Homo sapiens: one gene and its partner. Changing the gene in region 2 together with the main gene of any one other region gives a genetic interaction. Each region holds a gene or a part of one and is shown on either strand. Other genes may lie near its edges. The genes, in order: WEE1 and ING4.

What was found.
Region 1: changes in ING4 (region 2) and WEE1 are lethal when combined (synthetic lethality), as found in Homo sapiens cells (one large-scale study listed by BioGRID).

Annotation. Positions count from the first base shown.
Region 1 is NC_000011.10:9,579,934-9,583,750, reverse strand, and holds part of WEE1 (wee1-like protein kinase), read right to left. Parts: intron 2,220-3,817; coding exon 2,073-2,219; intron 1-2,072. UniProt on the Homo sapiens protein: Acts as a negative regulator of entry into mitosis (G2 to M transition) by protecting the nucleus from cytoplasmically activated cyclin B1-complexed CDK1 before the onset of mitosis by mediating phosphorylation of CDK1 on 'Tyr-15'.
Region 2 is NC_000012.12:6,656,451-6,660,267, forward strand, and holds part of ING4 (inhibitor of growth protein 4), read right to left. Parts: intron 350-3,817; exon of another isoform or gene 349-349; coding exon 277-348; intron 1-276.

The DNA of each region.
Region 1 (3,817 bases), on a different chromosome or scaffold from region 2:
ACGCACACACACGCACAAATATTTAGTATTAAATTTATGTTACATTTACTGGAGTCATCTATACGTTTTACTTTCTTTATAGGACAACTTATTTTGTGATGGTATTTGTAAATTGGAAGGTTTTTTTTTTTTTTTTTTGAGACAGTCTCGCTCTGTCGCCCAGGCTGGAGTGCAGTGGTGCGATCTCAGCTCACTTCAACTTCCTCCTCCCGGGTTCAAGCAATTCTCCTGCCTCAGCCTCCAGAGTAGCTGGGACTACAGGTGCCTGCCACCACACCCAGCTAATTTTTTGTATTTTAGTAGAGACGAGGTTTCACCGTGTTGTCCAGGCTGGTGGTGAACTCCCAAGCTTAGGCAATCCACCCGCCTCAGCCTCCCAAAGTGCTGGGATTACAGGCGTGAGGCACCACGCCCGGCGAATTTTTTTTTTCTTTTTTTGAGACGGAGTCTCACTTTGTTGCCTAGGATGGAGTGCAATGGTGCAATCTCGGCTCACTGCAACCTCCGCCTCCCGGGTTCAAGCAATTCTTCTGCCTCAGCCTCCCGAGTAACTAGGACTATAGGTGCGCACCACTACACCTGGCTAATTTTTGTAATTTTAGTAGAGACGGGGTTTCATCATATTGGCCAGGCTGGTCTCGAACTCCTGCCTCGTGATCTGCCTGCCTTGGCCTGCCAGAGTGCTGGGATTACAGGCGTCAGCCACTGCACCTGGTCTAAATTTGAAGATTTTTAAACTTCACATCCCTTAATATTTTCAACTTTTATACCTTATAAGGGTCTATTATATTTGTCTAACACTTTATATGAGTACAGCTATTCCTTAAGAATTCACATTTACTGCCTTAAATCCAAATATATTTTTGTCTTTTGAAAATAAAAAACATGCTGGGCACGGTGGCTTACGCCTGTAATCTCAGCACTTTGGGAGGCCATGGTGGGCAGATCACAAGGTCAATAGTTCAAGACCAGCTTAGCCAACATGGTGAAACCCGTCTCTACTAAAAATACAAAAAATTAGCCGGGCATGGTGGTGTATGCCTGTAATCCCAGCTACTCGGGAGGCGGAGGCAGGAGAATCGCTTGAACGTGGGAGGCAGAGGTTACAGAGAGCTGAGACTGTGCCACTGCACTCCAGCCTGGGCAACAGAGCGAGACTCCATCTCAAAAAAAGAAAAAAAGAAAGAAGAAACTTTAGTGACTTGTTAACATACGCATATGAAATTCTAGCATATAACTCATAAAGTTGTACAAAATGACTGAAATTCTCACAAATCAACAGGTTTCCAAAGATTAATAAAACCTCACTAAATTCATCTAGCCTAAGATGCTTAACTTGAATCCATAATCCTTAGTTATAACTTCCAATTTATAGGAAATATAGGAGAAAAAGGAACAAGCTAAATGATACAAGAAGCAACTAGTCAAATCCAGAAAAAGGGATAGCTTGCAAGATAAGTGTATATTATTTTTACAAAGCAGAGGATGGGTTCTGAAAAAGAAAAACTGATATAACCAGATGCAATGCATGATCCTTAAGTAGATACTAATTTGAACAAATCAACTATTAAGGACTTGAGTCAACTGGGGAAATTTTAATATGGTCTGGCCTAGTGGAAGAGTGGGGCTTTAAACACAGATTTTTAGTGCCCTCATTAGTATCCCACCTGTAGTTCCTGTAAGATGCAGCAAAAATTTCTGGCTTTTAATAAAAATGAATTTATCTGGGCATGGTGGCACATGCCTATAGTCCCGGCTACTCGGAAGACTGAGGTGGGATGACTGCTTGAGCACGGGATGGGGAAGTTGCAGTGAGCGGAGATGGTGCCACTGCATTCCGGCCTGGGCCACAGAATGAGACACTGTCTCAAAAAAGTTTATCTCAAATTTTGGGGATTAACAAGGGAAGAGATGAATAGAAATCATAAAACAATATTGGTAAGTGGATCTAAGGCCTTTTAAAACTAACAATGAGAAAACAGAAGATATATATTTTTTCAATGTTGTCATAATGAAGTAATTTATTCTCTATAACCCCAAAGAACACAGGTCAGAAGATCTGCAATACTTACTAGGTTTTATATCCATGTGAACCAAAGACATTGAATGAATATACCTCAAGCCTCGGCCAACTTGCAAAAGGAGATCCTTCAACTCTGCTTCTTTAAAGTAACTCATGATTCTGTAGTTTTCACTTATAGCATCAGCTAAACTTCCACCTAACAAAGATAGAAAATATTAGCATTTTCTTCTTTCTGAAATATTTTCTTTCTTCCATCTTTACCAAATGAGTCTCAACCAACCAATCTCAACCAAGAAAGTGTTATTTTATAGGACCTTCTCCCTTCAACCTGCTTGTGAAATCAAAATTTTATTGTTTTTTCAATAGGTAATACATTTGCATGGGTACAAAATAAAATGTAAAGTCTCTCTCTCAATCATACACCTCAGCAATCCACCTGTTTCTTTCTCAGAGTAAACCAGTATTATCAGGTTGGCTTTTTTTTTGTTTGTTTTTGTTTTTAATTTATAAGAGACAGGGTCTATCTATGTTGCCCAGCTGGAATCCAGTGGCTATTCACAGGCTTGATCCCACTACTTATCAGCATAGGAGTTTTGACTTGTGCTGTTTCCAACTTAGGCCAGTTTACCCCTCTTTAGGCAACCTGGTGGTGCCCCACTCCACAGAGGTCACCATACTGATGCTCAACTTAGATCGGCATAGATCGGCATAGATGCTCAACATAGATCGGCACTACAGCCTAGAATTCCCAAACCCAAATTCAAATTCCCTGCTTCAGACTCCCAAGCAGCTGGGACTACAGGCACTGCCACCACGCCCAGCTCAGGTCTATGTATTCTTTTCAACTTTTTGCATAAATAACAGCATATGTTCATTATCTTAAAGATCACTCTATACCAATATACAAAGACAACCCATTTCTTCTTGTCTTTATAGAATTCCATTGTATAATTGAGTAGAAATGCATTTATTGGCTGGGCACAGTGGCTCACGCCTGTAATCCCAGCACTATGGGAGGCCGAGGCAGGTAGATCACGAGGTCAGGAGTTCGAGACCATGCAGGCCAACATGGCGAAACCCCGTTTCTACTAAAAATACAAAAATTAGCTGGGTGTGGTGGCGTGCACCTGTAATCCCAGCTACTCAGAAGGCAGGAGAATTGCTTGAACCTGGGAGGCGGAGGTTGCAGTGAGCCGATATCGGGCCATTGCACTCCAGCCTGGTGGCAGAGTGAGACTCAGTCCCCCGAAAAAAAAAAAAAAAAAGAAAGAAAGAAAGAAATGCATTTATCAGTCCCTCATTTGATGGACATTTTAAAATTATTTCCAAGCCTTTGCTATTACATACTATGGCCTAATAAATAACCTTGTACATTGGTAATTTCACGTACATTTAGTATATCACCTAGAAGCCAAATTGCTGGGTTAAAGGGTATGCACATTTGTAATATATGGAGATGGTGTGTTTTACACACACACACACACACACACACACACTCTTCTCCACAGAGAAGGCTGTACCAATATATATGCCCATTGTCAATGCATGAGCATACCTGTTTCCCCATACCCTTGACAAGTCTATAAATGTTATAGGTAAAAAGACAGTATTTTAGTATAGTTATAATTTATACTACTCTTACTATGAATGAGACCATAACCTGCTTTTATAGAATTAGTTAAATCAATCAGTTAATTTGTTTATATTTTTTCAAACTTTTAAAGTTTGTATTTCATCTCAAAGGCAATGAGGAATTGTTTTAAATATCTCCTGTTTAAGGCTTAGGAATAAAAA
Region 2 (3,817 bases):
AGGTGTGAGCCAGCCTGGCTAATTATTCTCCAGGAAGACATAAAGAACACAGCATCTTTGAATTCTTGAGGCGTTTTCACAATACTCTATTTGTTATGAAAAAGCTGACACAGAAATGAGGATCATTATCCTGTTTTAAGAATTCCAAGAGCGTAAAAAAGGAGCGAGAGAAGCCACAGTTCTCCAGATCATACCAGATGATACGGTAACATCAAGTAGAAAAATAAATGATTACACACACTCATTAGATACAAAAACTTTTTACTCTATACATACCCTCTGTTCTTTGGTCTAGGTCCCTCATGAGCTGAAAGTTTCTCTGTAATTCAAAGGGAAGGTTTTCAATACCTAGGGAAGAGAGAGAAACAATCACAGGACTGACTATGCATAGGCCTTACAGCTCCTTTTAAAGTGCAGTTCAGGCCGGACATGGTGGCTCACGCCTGCAATCCCAGCACTTTGGGAGGCCAAGGGGGTGGATCACTCAAGGCCAGGAGTTCAAGACCAGCCTGGCCAACATGGCGAGACCTCCATCTCTATTAAAAATATGAAAATTAGCCTAGTGTGACGGTGGGCATCTCTAATCCCAGCTACTTGGGAGGCTGAGGCATGAGAATCACTTGAATCCAGGAGGCAGAGGTTGCAGTGAGCCGTGATTGAGCCACTGCACTCCAGCCTGGGCAATAGAGCAAGTCCCTGTCTCAAAAACAAACAAATGGCCAGGCATGGTGGCTCACACCTGTAATCCCAGCACTTTGGGAGGCCGAGGAGAGCAGATCACGAGGTCAGGAGATTGAGACCATCCTGGCTAACATGGTGAAACCCCGTCTCTACTAAAAATACAAAAAATTAGCCAGGTGCGATGGCGGGCGCCTGTACTCCCAGCTACTCAGGAGGCTGAGGCAGGAGAATGGCATGAACCTGGGAGGCGGAGTTTGCAGTGAGCCGAGATCGCACCACTGCACTCCAGCCTGGGCGACACAGTGAGACTCCATCTCAAACAAACAAACAAACAAACAAAAAATAAAGTGCAGCTCAGTTTTCCTTCCTCTGAACCTCTGGATTTATCTGTGACAGGATGGATCAGTTCTCTCATGACAGGCCATGCTTAACTCTTTCTCTACAAAACCTTTCCATTTCTGCATGGCTATCCCACCCTTTTCGCCTTCAGTGACCTTCCTTTATAAATAAGCTCTTCCCGTCAGGTGTGGTGGCTCAAGCCTGTAATCCCAGCACTTTGGGAGGTTGAGGCGGGTGGATCACGAGGTCAGGAGTTCGAGACCAGCCTGGCCAACATGGTGAAAGCCTGTTTCTACTAAAAATATAAAAATTAGCCAGGTGTGGTGGCACGTACCTGTAATCCCAGCTATTCAGGAGGCTGAGGCAGGAGAATCACTTGAACCTGGGAGGCAGAGGTTGCAGTGAGCCAAGACTGCACTACTGCACTCCAGCCTGGTGACAGAGCGAGACTCTGTCTCCAAAAAAAAAAAAAAAAGCTCTTCCCTTTCTTTTCCTTTTTTGTTTTTTGAGACGGAGTCTGGCTCTGTTGCCCAGGCTGGAGTGCAGTGGCACGATCTTGGCTCACTGCAGCCTCCACCTCCTGGGTTCAAGTGATTCTCCTGCCTCAGCCTCTGGAGTAGCTGGGACCACAGGCGCGCGCCACCACACCCGACTAATTTTTGTATTTTTAGTAGACACAGGGTTTCACCATTTTGGCCAGACTGGTCTTGAACTCCTGGCCTCAGGTGATCCGCCCGCCTTGATCTCCCAAAGTGCTGGGATTACTGGCATGAGCCACTAAGACGGGCCCCTTTCTTTTATTTTCCATCTCTGCCTCCAAGCTCTTTGTCCTCAAATTACAAATAGTCTCCTGGTATCCTCTATTATACACATAACACTTCCAATCTACTTCCATATAGTAGCCAGAATGTCCTTTTTAAAAAATGCAAACCTGGCCAGGCACGGTGGCTCATGCCTGTAATCCCAGCACTTTGGGAGGCCCAGGTGGGCGCATCAGCTGAGCTGAGGAGTTCAAGACCAGCCTGGGCAACATGGTGAAACTCTGTCTCTACCAAAAATACAAAAACTTAGCCAGGCTTGGTGCACATGCCTGTAATCCCAGCTACTTGGGAGGCTGGGGCACAAAAATCCCTTGAACCTGGGAGGTGGACATTTCAGTGAGCCGAGATCACGCCAATGCACTCCAGCCTGGATGACAGAGCAAGACACTGACTCAAAAAAACAAAAACAAAAACAAACACAAAAATAAAAAATGCAAACCTAATCAAGTCACTCTCCCGCTTATAACCTTCTGGTCACTTCCTACTGCTCTGAAGATGTTCTGCGCTTTCTGGCCCTTGCTTACCTCACACCAGCCTGAACTCATGTCAGTCTCCCTTTGTGCTCTGCTTTGCCCATACTGGCCTCCTCGCACTGCCTCAAACTGGCCTGTGCTCCTCCTGCCATTTGGCTTTCCACATGCTGTTCTCTCTAGTTGGAATGCACCGCTCGCTTTTCCTCATCCCATCCACCCCATCCCTCTTGGCCTATTAAATTCCTGTTCGTTCTTCCAAAGTTCAGCTCAAACTCAACTTTCCCAGACTCTGTTAACTGCCCTCGATCTATGTCAAGGTATTCTAGCCACCTTTTTAAAGCACTTATCCAACTGTAATTAAATAAATGTGTAATTAGTTGGCTGGGTGCGGTGGCCCATGCCTGTAATCCAGCACTCTGGAAGGCAGGTGGATCACTCAAGGCCAGGAGTTCAAGACCAGCCTTGGCAGCCTGGCAAAACCCCATCTCTACTAAAAATACAAAAATTAGGGCCAGGCACGGTGGCTCATGCCTGTAATTCTAGCACTTTGGGAGGCCGAGGCGGGTGGCTCACTTGAAGCCAGGAGTTCAAGACCAGCCTGGCCAACATGGTGAAACCTGTAATCCCAGATACTTGGGAGGCTGAGGCACAAGAATTGCTTAAATCCGGGAGGTGGAGGTTGCAGTGAGCTGAGATCGCACCACTGCACTTCAGCCTGGGTGACAGAGTGCGACTCCATCTCAAAAACAAAACAAAACAAAAATTAGGCCAGGCGCGGTGGCTCACACCTGTAATCCCGGCACTTTGGGTGGCCGAGGAGAGCAGATTACGAGGTCAGGAGATTGAGACCATCCTGGCTAACATGGTGAAACCCCGTCTCTACTAAAAATACAAAAAAATTAGCTGGCCGTGGTGGCGGGCGCCTGTAGTCCCAGCTACTCGGGAGGCTGAGGCAGGAGAGTGGCGTGCATCCAGGAGGTGGAGCTTTCAGTGAGCCGAGATCGCTCCACTGCACTCCAGCCTGGGCGACAGAGCGAGACTCTGTCTCAAAAAAAAAAAAAAAAAATAGATGGGCATGGTGGCCTGTGGCTGTAGTTCCAGTTACTCAAGAGACTGAGGCAGGACAATTGCTTGAACCAGGGAGGTAGAGGTTGCAGCCCGGGCAAAAGAGCAAGACTGTTTCAAAAAACAAAAAAATTAAAAAAAATAATGTGTAATTAGTTATTTGGTATCTGTCTCCCCAGGCCGAACATGGCTATCATATTCTCTCCTGTTTCCATAGTGTTTAGAATTATGACTTGCAAAGAGCAGGTACTCAGTAAATACTTGAATAAATGCATGAATATTTGTCACCCCAGTACAAGAGAAATCTCTTGCCAAGACTCCACCTAAAACTTTAAAAATGCCTCTACTTGCTGGGCACAGTGGCTCACGCCTGTAATCCCAGCATTCTGGGAGGCCAAGGCAGGTAGATCGCTTGATCTCAGGAGTCTGAGACCAGCC